3 linked regions of the Homo sapiens genome follow. The protein of the gene in region 1 purifies or fractionates together with the protein of each later gene. This does not show direct contact. Each region holds a gene or a part of one and is shown in the gene's direction. Other genes may lie near its edges. The genes, in order: BNIP3L, SPATA7 and VANGL2.

The links.
Region 2: the proteins of BNIP3L (region 1) and SPATA7 purify together in Homo sapiens (affinity purification with mass spectrometry; one large-scale study listed by BioGRID and IntAct). This does not show direct contact.
Region 3: the proteins of BNIP3L (region 1) and VANGL2 purify together in Homo sapiens (affinity purification with western blotting, with the first as the bait; one study listed by BioGRID). This does not show direct contact.

What each region holds. Positions count from the first base shown.
Region 1 is NC_000008.11:26,410,318-26,413,758, forward strand, and holds the end of BNIP3L (BCL2/adenovirus E1B 19 kDa protein-interacting protein 3-like), read left to right. Parts: intron 1-46; coding exon 47-95; 3' UTR 96-2,810; downstream 2,811-3,441.
Region 2 is NC_000014.9:88,430,567-88,434,220, forward strand, and holds part of SPATA7 (spermatogenesis-associated protein 7), read left to right. Parts: intron 1-605; coding exon 606-659; intron 660-2,568; coding exon 2,569-2,646; intron 2,647-3,654. UniProt on the Homo sapiens protein: Involved in the maintenance of both rod and cone photoreceptor cells.
Region 3 is NC_000001.11:160,417,523-160,421,176, forward strand, and holds part of VANGL2 (vang-like protein 2), read left to right. Parts: intron 1-1,479; coding exon 1,480-2,087; intron 2,088-2,422; coding exon of another isoform or gene 2,423-2,471; exon of another isoform or gene 2,472-2,876; intron 2,877-2,888; coding exon 2,889-3,025; intron 3,026-3,529; coding exon 3,530-3,654. UniProt on the Homo sapiens protein: Involved in the control of early morphogenesis and patterning of both axial midline structures and the development of neural plate. Plays a role in the regulation of planar cell polarity, particularly in the orientation of stereociliary bundles in the cochlea.

The sequences.
Region 1 (3,441 bases):
AGAACTGTTGAAACAGGTGAAACATGATGCTTCTGCTTCCTTTCAGCATCTATATTGGAAAGCGACTGAGCACACCCTCTGCCAGCACCTACTGAGGGAAAGGAAAAGCCCCTGGAAATGCGTGTGACCTGTGAAGTGGTGTATTGTCACAGTAGCTTATTTGAACTTGAGACCATTGTAAGCATGACCCAACCTACCACCCTGTTTTTACATATCCAATTCCAGTAACTCTCAAATTCAATATTTTATTCAAACTCTGTTGAGGCATTTTACTAACCTTATACCCTTTTTGGCCTGAAGACATTTTAGAATTTCCTAACAGAGTTTACTGTTGTTTAGAAATTTGCAAGGGCTTCTTTTCCGCAAATGCCACCAGCAGATTATAATTTTGTCAGCAATGCTATTATCTCTAATTAGTGCCACCAGACTAGACCTGTATCATTCATGGTATAAATTTTACTCTTGCAACATAACTACCATCTCTCTCTTAAAACGAGATCAGGTTAGCAAATGATGTAAAAGAAGCTTTATTGTCTAGTTGTTTTTTTTCCCCCAAGACAAAGGCAAGTTTCCCTAAGTTTGAGTTGATAGTTATTAAAAAGAAAACAAAACAAAAAAAAAAGGCAAGGCACAACAAAAAAATATCCTGGGCAATAAAAAAAATATTTTAAACCAGCTTTGGAGCCACTTTTTTGTCTAAGCCTCCTAATAGCGTCTTTTAATTTATAGGAGGCAAACTGTATAAATGATAGGTATGAAATAGAATAAGAAGTAAAATACATCAGCAGATTTTCATACTAGTATGTTGTAATGCTGTCTTTTCTATGGTGTAGAATCTTTCTTTCTGATAAGGAACGTCTCAGGCTTAGAAATATATGAAATTGCTTTTTGAGATTTTTGCGTGTGTGTTTGATATTTTTTACGATAATTAGCTGCATGTGAATTTTTCATGACCTTCTTTACATTTTTTATTTTTTATTTCTTTATTTTTTTTTCTCTAAGAAGAGGCTTTGGAATGAGTTCCAATTTGTGATGTTAATACAGGCTTCTTGTTTTAGGAAGCATCACCTATACTCTGAAGCCTTTAAACTCTGAAGAGAATTGTTTCAGAGTTATTCCAAGCACTTGTGCAACTTGGAAAAACAGACTTGGGTTGTGGGAACAGTTGACAGCGTTCTGAAAAGATGCCATTTGTTTCCTTCTGATCTCTCACTGAATAATGTTTACTGTACAGTCTTCCCAAGGTGATTCCTGCGACTGCAGGCACTGGTCATTTTCTCATGTAGCTGTCTTTTCAGTTATGGTAAACTCTTAAAGTTCAGAACACTCAACAGATTCCTTCAGTGATATACTTGTTCGTTCATTTCTAAAATGTGAAGCTTTAGGACCAAATTGTTAGAAAGCATCAGGATGACCAGTTATCTCGAGTAGATTTTCTTGGATTTCAGAACATCTAGCATGACTCTGAAGGATACCACATGTTTTATATATAAATAATTACTGTTTATGATATAGACATTGATATTGACTATTTAGAGAACCGTTGTTAATTTTAAAACTAGCAATCTATAAAGTGCACCAGGTCAACTTGAATAAAAACACTATGACAGACAGGTTTGCCAGTTTGCAGAAACTAACTCTTTTCTCACATCAACATTTGTAAAATTGATGTGTTATAGTGGAAAATAACATATAGATTAAACAAAATTTTTATCTTTTTTCAAGAATATAGCTGGCTATCTTTAAGAAAGATGATATATCCTAGTTTTGAAAGTAATTTTCTTTTTTCTTTCTAGCATTTGATGTCTAAATAATTTTGGACATCTTTTTCCTAGACCATGTTTCTGTCTTACTCTTAAACCTGGTAACACTTGATTTGCCTTCTATAACCTATTTATTTCAAGTGTTCATATTTGAATTTCTTTGGGAAGAAAGTAAATCTGATGGCTCACTGATTTTTGAAAAGCCTGAATAAAATTGGAAAGACTGGAAAGTTAGGAGAACTGACTAGCTAAACTGCTACAGTATGCAATTTCTATTACAATTGGTATTACAGGGGGGAAAAGTAAAATTACACTTTACCTGAAAGTGACTTCTTACAGCTAGTGCATTGTGCTCTTTCCAAGTTCAGCAGCAGTTCTATCAGTGGTGCCACTGAAACTGGGTATATTTATGATTTCTTTCAGCGTTAAAAAGAAACATAGTGTTGCCCTTTTTCTTAAAGCATCAGTGAAATTATGGAAAATTACTTAAAACGTGAATACATCATCACAGTAGAATTTATTATGAGAGCATGTAGTATGTATCTGTAGCCCTAACACATGGGATGAACGTTTTACTGCTACACCCAGATTTGTGTTGAACGAAAACATTGTGGTTTGGAAAGGAGAATTCAACAATTAATAGTTGAAATTGTGAGGTTAATGTTTAAAAAGCTTTACACCTGTTTACAATTTGGGGACAAAAAGGCAGGCTTCATTTTTCATATGTTTGATGAAAACTGGCTCAAGATGTTTGTAAATAGAATCAAGAGCAAAACTGCACAAACTTGCACATTGGAAAGTGCAACAAGTTCCCGTGATTGCAGTAAAAATATTTACTATTCTAAAAAAATGAGAATTGAAGACTTAGCCAGTCAGATAAGTTTTTTCATGAACCCGTTGTGGAAATTATTGGAATTAACTGAGCCAAAGTGATTATGCATTCTTCATCTATTTTAGTTAGCACTTTGTATCGTTATATACAGTTTACAATACATGTATAACTTGTAGCTATAAACATTTTGTGCCATTAAAGCTCTCACAAAACTTTTCCTGTCAGTATATCATTTTTCTGTCGCACCTGTTGCCTGGGAGTTTCAGGCGATGAGGCCTCCTCGCCTACACACAGCCTTCCAGTCATCTGGCTTCCCCAGCAGTGGAGTTCCTAACAGTGCTCAGGGTGTGAACGGTGTTCTGTGGGGACAGTCACCGCAGTGTGAGCATTCGTGAGTGCCTCGGGACTGTGGCATTCAGAGCATTTGCCTCCAGGTAGTGGCAGGAGGGCGCTCACGGGAGGAGTGCTCAGGAAGTACAGGAGAGAAGAAGAGTGTGCCCTGATGGAAATGACAGTGGGACACCAGTGAAAGTGGATCCAGAAGGAACTGGAAGTTCCACGTGCCTGGAAAACAGGATGGATACAGAGGAAACTGAAAAATGTAGGTTAGTACTGAACCTAATTGAAATGTGTGTGCCCTCCCAGGGGTCACACTTCATCATATAGTTAGCTGGGTTTACTTCTTTTAAACCAGGAGGTGATTTAAGATGTAAATTTTAGACAGTCAAGCCATCTGGTGAGAGAGTACCAGAGGAGATCAATCAGTTCTCTAGGCGAGGAGCTAGGGCCTGTCCTGGGCTGTCACCCTGAGGTTGGCAGTGGTGGGCCAGGATACGTATGAGAAAC
Region 2 (3,654 bases), on another chromosome or scaffold:
TCATAATAATGTATCTATATCCAGCATTATCTATACATTAACCTTAGTCAAATTGTCATTGTTTATACTAGAGAAGTGCCGTAGTGTAGTTTTAAAAAGAATTGTGAATTTATACCTAGAAAAGTAGTTTAAAAACCTGTCTTTGCTGCTTACTAACATTAACCTTGGAAAGTTACTTAGCCTTTCTGACCCTTGGTGAACTAATCAGTAAATGGGAAAAATAATACACAGCCCACATGCCTGACTGGGTTGTTTAGAAGATTAAATTAGATATGGGTATGAGAGTGCTTTAAAAATTGCTGAAACATGTAATTACAGGTTGAGCATCCCAAATTTGAAAATCTGTAATTCACCATACTCCAAAATCCGACATGATGCCCAAAGGAAATGCTCATTGGAACATTTTTGGATTTCAGATTTTTGGATTGAGATGCTCAACTACTAAGTATATAATGGAAATATTCCAAAATCCAAATTCTGAAACACTTCTGGTTCCAAACATCTAAGATAAGGGCTATTCAGTGTGTACTAATATACAATGTTATTGAGTACTTATTGTATGCCAACCACTGTTTTGCTCAACTACTTTAACTTCCTCTTTCTAGGGCAATGTGTCAGTATTCCCTGAAGCCCCCTTCAACTCGTAAAATCTACTCTGAGTAAGATCTTTTTTAAGTCTTCGTTTTGCATAGTGGAATCAAGGATTAAGAATCAAAGAAACCATATTAAATAAGTCAGGATTGAACAATAATCTCTTTTTTTAAAACTGGCAAGTAATAAATGTACATATTCATGGAGTACCTAGTGATATTTTGATACATATACTGTACAGTGATTAGAACAGTTTAATTAGCATATCCATCATCTCGAACATTTTATCATTTCTTTGTGTTGGAAACATTGAGTATCCTTCTTCTAGCTATTTGAAACTATGTATTATTGTTAACCATGGTAGTCATCCTATAGTGGTATAGAACACTAGAACTTACTCCTCCTATCTAGCTATAATTTTGTATCTTGTAACAAATCTCAGCTTGTCCCTCATTCCCGTCTACCCTTCCCAGCCTCCAGTACCTTCTGTTCTACTTTCTACTTCTATGAAATCAACTGTTTTTAGCTTCCACATATGAGTGAGAACATGCGATGTTTAACTTTCTGTTGCTGGCTTATTTCACCAGCATCCATCCATGTTCCATCCATGTTGCCACAAATGACATGATTTTATTTGTTTTTATGGCTGAATAGTATTTCATGGTGTATATATACATTTTCTTTATCCATTCATCTGTGAACACTAATCTCTCTTACAACCAGCTTTGGGATATCAATCGTATAATACATACTAAATTTGAGAAACTGACCTGAATAATTTTCTCGAATTTTTTTGAGAAATAATAACAACTTTCTGGAATAATTATCAATCACGTCATTTTTATCTCCAGTAGAAATTTGTCCCCAGGTATTACCTGATACTTTTTAATAATCAGTATCCATGATTCTTACTTATTTTTTAAGTAAAAATAATAAAATAATAAAGAAGAGTTTTAGAGAAATGCAGACTTTTAATAGTTCAGGATACTCTTTCCAGAGGTTTCTAACCTCAGCAGTTCTTTGCAGATATTTTATTTGTAGATTTTAATGTTGTTTTAATTAAGTTACTCTTTTTAGGGAAAATAATTTATAAAATTTTATTTATTTTCAAATATGCTGTTTTTAAATAAGCAAGACCCTGTGAATCAGTTTGAAAGTGTAACTTTTTATTAAACATTTAAATCTATTATTTGATTTGCTTATTAACTCTTCCCTTATATTTGCTTATTCAGTAATTTAGTTACTTGCTACTTACATTTGGTATTAATTCACTAATTTCAGCTAATTAAAATCAAACGTACAATAATATCCTAATTTTCTTGTAATAGCTACTAAAATATAGTTATAATAGAGAAGTGTGTTCAAGTAGTTAAAAATTACCACAAGATTTATGTTCACAAATTTTCCTATGAGAATTTTTCGTCTCCAAACGTTTTGAGAGAAAAAATAAATTTTTCTGCTTAGTAAATTTCTCAACCTTAAAACAAGATGCTGGCCTAGGGCTAGGAGAGGACTTCTTAGTTGAAGCTCCTGCTTCTCTGGACAACTTTCCTCTTCCTTCTTGCAAATGCTTTGCAGAGGGACTTGCACCTCTGCTGCTGGACCTGGTCAGGAGCAAGAGGAAATTTAAAACATTCCTCGGGAGTGCTTGCTCCCAGTGGATTGCATTTGATTGCGCCTTGTCCTTCGTTGCTTTCTTTTTGTGTTGTTTAATTCTGCTTGTTTTTTACTGCTATGGATGTTGCAGATATCTGTGAAATTTTACTCTATTAGGTCATCACCTTTAGTAAATATTTATCCTTGCATAATTTGAGAAGGTAGACATGTTTGTTTTGTAATATTCCCCTTAGTAATATGAGATAGAAGTACATTGGTAATGGTAGAGATAGATATTTCTAATTAGGTACTAATGTTTCTTACAGTTTTCAGAATAAGTAAGGAATAATTTTTATGCTATATATTGCCTTCCTTTTACAGTGAAGAAGAACTGTTGTATCTGAGTTTCATTGAAGATGTAACAGATGAAATTTTGAAACTTGGTTTATTTTCAAACAGGTTAGTTTTTTTAATGGTGTTATGTTAATTCAGGAGTACATTAAATATTCTTCATATTTCTTCATATGATGTTAAAATTTTAAAGTTATTTTCCCATATTAGGAAATGAAAAAATATATTGCTTTCTTGGAAACTTATTATTATAATTGATAGCAAGTTGTAAAGAATGTTTAATTCATACTCTAGGGGAAGTTCACCACTTGGGAGAATTAAAGAATAGAGCTTTTATTCATTTTAATATTATATCCCTTGAGTTATAAGTGACTAGTGAAGGAAGATCTTTATCACTTATTTGCAAAGCTCCATAATCCCATTTTACTACCTAAAATTGTCATGAGAATCAAAAGCAAGCATTTTTGGTGCAACCATTATTAGTATTAGATCTAGTAAAATGAGAACAAATTAAGAGCTAGGTTTGCACGCTGTAAGTTAAATGGAAAGTTTGCAAAACCAGATTAGCTATTGCATAGCTTAAGGAAACTGTGTGTCCTGAATTTTGCTTGAACATTTATGTATCTAAGATTCATTGAGCACTGAGCTCTACTTTGTGTTATGTAACCTAGGACCCTATTATGTATACTACTTGCTTTCTCTGTCATAATAATATGCCAAGCATAGACATTTTTAATAAATTATTTCTATCCTCTACATCAAGTTTTTTAAAAAATTAAAGCAAACATTTTCATTATTGGTATAAAAAGGCATATCAAAAAGACCTAAGATTTTTGGCATTAATTCTGTTGACCCCTTTCATTTTAAAAAGTTGGTTAATAATATTTGCATAATATGGGTAAAGAGTTTCAGGATACATAATGAAAAGTTTTGGCAATCTGTATCACAATATGAATATACCTAACACTGCTGAATCGTGCACTTAAAAATGGTTAAGATGATAAGTTTGGTTAGTTTTTGCCACCACAAGAAAAAAAGTACACATACAAAATCATATGTATTTATGCTTAAAATTTTATGTTTTTCTCAAGATTATAAGACTGTTTATTACAGCAT
Region 3 (3,654 bases), on another chromosome or scaffold:
CCCAGCAGAGGTGGCCTTGCAGACCAGAGACCCAGAGTGGCCTTGAGTCTGCACAGTGTCCTTCACGCCTTCACCCCTTTACCCCTGGGGTCTTCTGTTCTTCTCTGTGCTGCTTTGATCAGGTTTACTCCTTCAGTGGCTCTCCATGCCTGGAGAACAGGTGCTTATTGCCCAGCCCAGCACTGCAGCGTGGCCTGCACAAGCCCTGCCTGGCTGCTGTCTGCCTTACCTTCCTGGTTGCACCTTGCTGTGCTTCTGCACAGGGATCCTCTGCTCTCATAGCCCTTGGGTGCCTCAGTTCATGCCATTCCTGCCCTGGAGGCTCCTCCTCTAGCTTCTGCCAAAATCATGGCATGCTGGAAGGAACTTAGATAGGACTTCCATAATTTTTTTTTTTTTTTTTTTTGAGATGGAGTTTCGCTCTTGTTGCCCAGGCTGGAGTGCAATGGCACGATCTCTGCTCACCACAACCTCCTCCTCCTGGGTTCAAGCGATTCTCCTGCATCAGCCTCCCGAGTAGCTGGGATTACAGGCATGTGCCACCACACCCAGCTAATTTTTTGTGTGTGTGTGTTTTTAGTAGAGATGGGATTTCTCCATGTTGGTCAGGCTGGTCTCGAACTCCCGACCTCAGGCGATCTGCCCACCTCGGCCTCCCAAAGTGCTGGGATTACAGGCGTGAGCCACCGTGCCCAGCAGGACTTCCAGAATTAATGTTAATGTTTGAGTGATTCATGTGGATCTTGTTAAAATGCAGATTTGGTTCAGTAAACATGCGGTGGGCCTGAGGTTCCGCCTTTCTAACAAGCTCCCAGGTGATGTCCACACCGCTGGTCCACAGATCACATTTTAAGTAGCCAGCCAGCCCTTAGAAATCATTTAGTTCAGTGATTCTCAATCTTGGATGACCATTACAATCATCTGGGGAGTTTTTTGTTTTTTTTTTTTAAAGGTTCACAAGCAGATTGCACTCTCCAATAATTAGCATTATTTTCCAACTTCCCTAAGTGTTCTAATGTGTGCATCTGGGATTGAGAACATCTTCCTTGGAGCCCCCTTCCCCCAAGGATCAGCTCAGGTCCCACGGTTTCTGGAAGCCTGCCTGCTTTGCTTGGCGAGTTTGCCCTTGGATCCCAGTCACTGCCTGAGCAGCATCTTCAGCATTTGTCCTGTGCTGTCTGCTCTGAGGGTCATTGCCGCATGTGTGGTTTTTTCCTCTCTCACTGACCAGTGTCCAGCTCCCCGAGGGCTCGGGTCTTGGATTTGGCCATCTGCAGAGGCCAGACTTTGACACACATTGGAGCTCAGTAAATACTTTGATGGTTGCGTATTTGTTGATTACCCTCTCTTCTTTCTGCCTTCTCCTTTCCCATGTGTTCTTCTCTGTCTCCTGTCCCCTCACCCTTTCTCCTGTTTCCCTCCTCTTCCTCTTCTTATCCTTTCCTCCTTATTGTGTGGCTGGCCCCCTTCTGCCTGTAGGATGACAACTGGGGGGAAACGACGACAGTAGTAACGGGCACCTCAGAGCACAGCATCTCCCATGATGACCTCACACGCATCGCCAAGGACATGGAGGACAGTGTCCCTCTGGACTGCTCCCGTCACCTGGGTGTGGCAGCGGGGGCCACCCTGGCACTGCTGTCTTTCCTCACGCCTCTGGCCTTCCTGCTGCTGCCCCCACTGCTGTGGCGGGAGGAGCTGGAGCCTTGCGGGACGGCCTGCGAGGGCCTCTTCATCTCTGTCGCCTTCAAGCTGCTCATCCTGCTACTGGGCAGCTGGGCTCTGTTCTTCCGCCGGCCCAAGGCCTCGCTGCCCCGCGTCTTTGTGCTGCGTGCCCTGCTTATGGTGCTGGTTTTCCTGCTCGTGGTCTCCTACTGGCTCTTCTATGGTGTGCGCATCCTGGATGCTCGGGAGCGCAGCTACCAGGGCGTGGTGCAGTTCGCCGTGTCGCTGGTGGACGCCCTTCTTTTCGTGCACTACCTGGCCGTGGTCCTGCTGGAGCTGCGCCAGCTCCAGCCTCAGTTCACGCTCAAGGTCGTGCGCTCCACCGACGGCGCCAGCCGCTTCTACAACGTTGGCCATCTCAGGTACTAGCCCACGGCTGGAGAAGGGTTGGGAGGGAAAGGGCATGGGAGGATGTGGAGTGACTGCTAGGGTGGGAGGGTATGATGGTGGGCTGGAGGTGATGGGCTTGGAGGGTTGTGTGGGAGGGAGTTGAGTACTTTGCACCAAGTAGGTTTTCACCAATGTTTGCTGCTTGATAGGCAGGTTCATGTACACGGTCTTGGGGCAAGATCAGTTGGGAGTTATGAGATGGGAATGAATAGGCATTTAGAGGTAGGGAATATTAGAGGGGGATGGACCAAAGGGAAGAAATATGGGGGGGTGCACAAACAGGGGCTTTTTGGAATCCCTTTTCTAGTCCTTTCTGGGAGGCGCAGCTTCTTGTGAGCACTCAGAGTGGCCTGTGAAGTGACCTGGCCAGAGGAGGGATCCCCAGAGAAAGAGATAAGGAGGAGAGTTCTTCAGCTCCCAGTAAACAAGCTACCCCTCGAGGCCACACAGAATATCAGTGGCACGTCCTGGGTCCTGTAGAGGATCTTGGGGGAACGCTGAATGGGGATGAGGTGATCTTTGGCTGGGGACCCAGGCCCAATGCCCTTTCTCTGCTAGGCTTTGGCATGGTGGGGAGGGACTGGCAGGCCCAGCCCTGGGAAAGGCTTGGGAGCCTGGTAAGTAGACCTCAGGCCCGGAGTCAGGCTTCTCGGAAGCAGCTTGTCCCTGTCCTGTGTCCTCTCCTGCCCTGCCAACCTGCCCTAATGTGTCCCTTTCCCCTGTGCCCCTTGGTCTGTCCCTTCTCCCACCCCCTCCTGCCGTCTCCCCCACAGCATCCAGCGCGTGGCAGTGTGGATCCTGGAGAAGTATTACCATGACTTCCCTGTCTACAACCCTGCCCTCCTCAACCTGCCCAAGTCCGTCCTGGCCAAGAAAGTGTCTGGCTTCAAGGTGTATTCCCTCGGAGAGGGTGAGCAGCCCTGCTCCTCTGCCCTTCCCTGTCTCTTCCCAAGCAGGACTCCAAGTTCCCGCCTCTCTTTTACCCTTTGTCCCTTGCTTTTTCCTTTCCTTAGCCCATGTTCTAGCCGCTTCTATTCAGTCATTTCCCTTGACTCCAGGTGGCTGATCTTAGCTGCTCATCCTACTTGCTGTCCCTTTATGCTATGGCATGTCCCCTGATCTGGCTCCTCTGTGTCTCTCATCAGCCCTGGTCTAAGCCCTTTGGCTCTCGGAGCTGCAGAACCCCCTGCACTGGGGAGGAACAACTGCAGGACTCTTGCGCTTCCAGTGCCTTCCTTGTTGCTTTCCTATGGCCTCTCCCAGAGGTGGCCAGGAGGGTTGGGATTAGGAGGTATTGCTGGGTGGTGGGAACAGCTTCTTCTGGACATGTCAGGCTGCTGTCTCCAGAGCTCCTGGAGTGGGAAGAGAGGCCACACTCTGATGTGACCATCTCCTCTATCCTGTTCCTGTGCAGAAAACAGCACCAACAACTCCACTGGCCAGTCTCGGGCTGTGATTGCAGCGGCAGCTCGGAGGCGGGACAACAGTCACAATGAGTACTACTATGAGGAGGCTGAGCATGAGCGAAGGGTGCGCAAG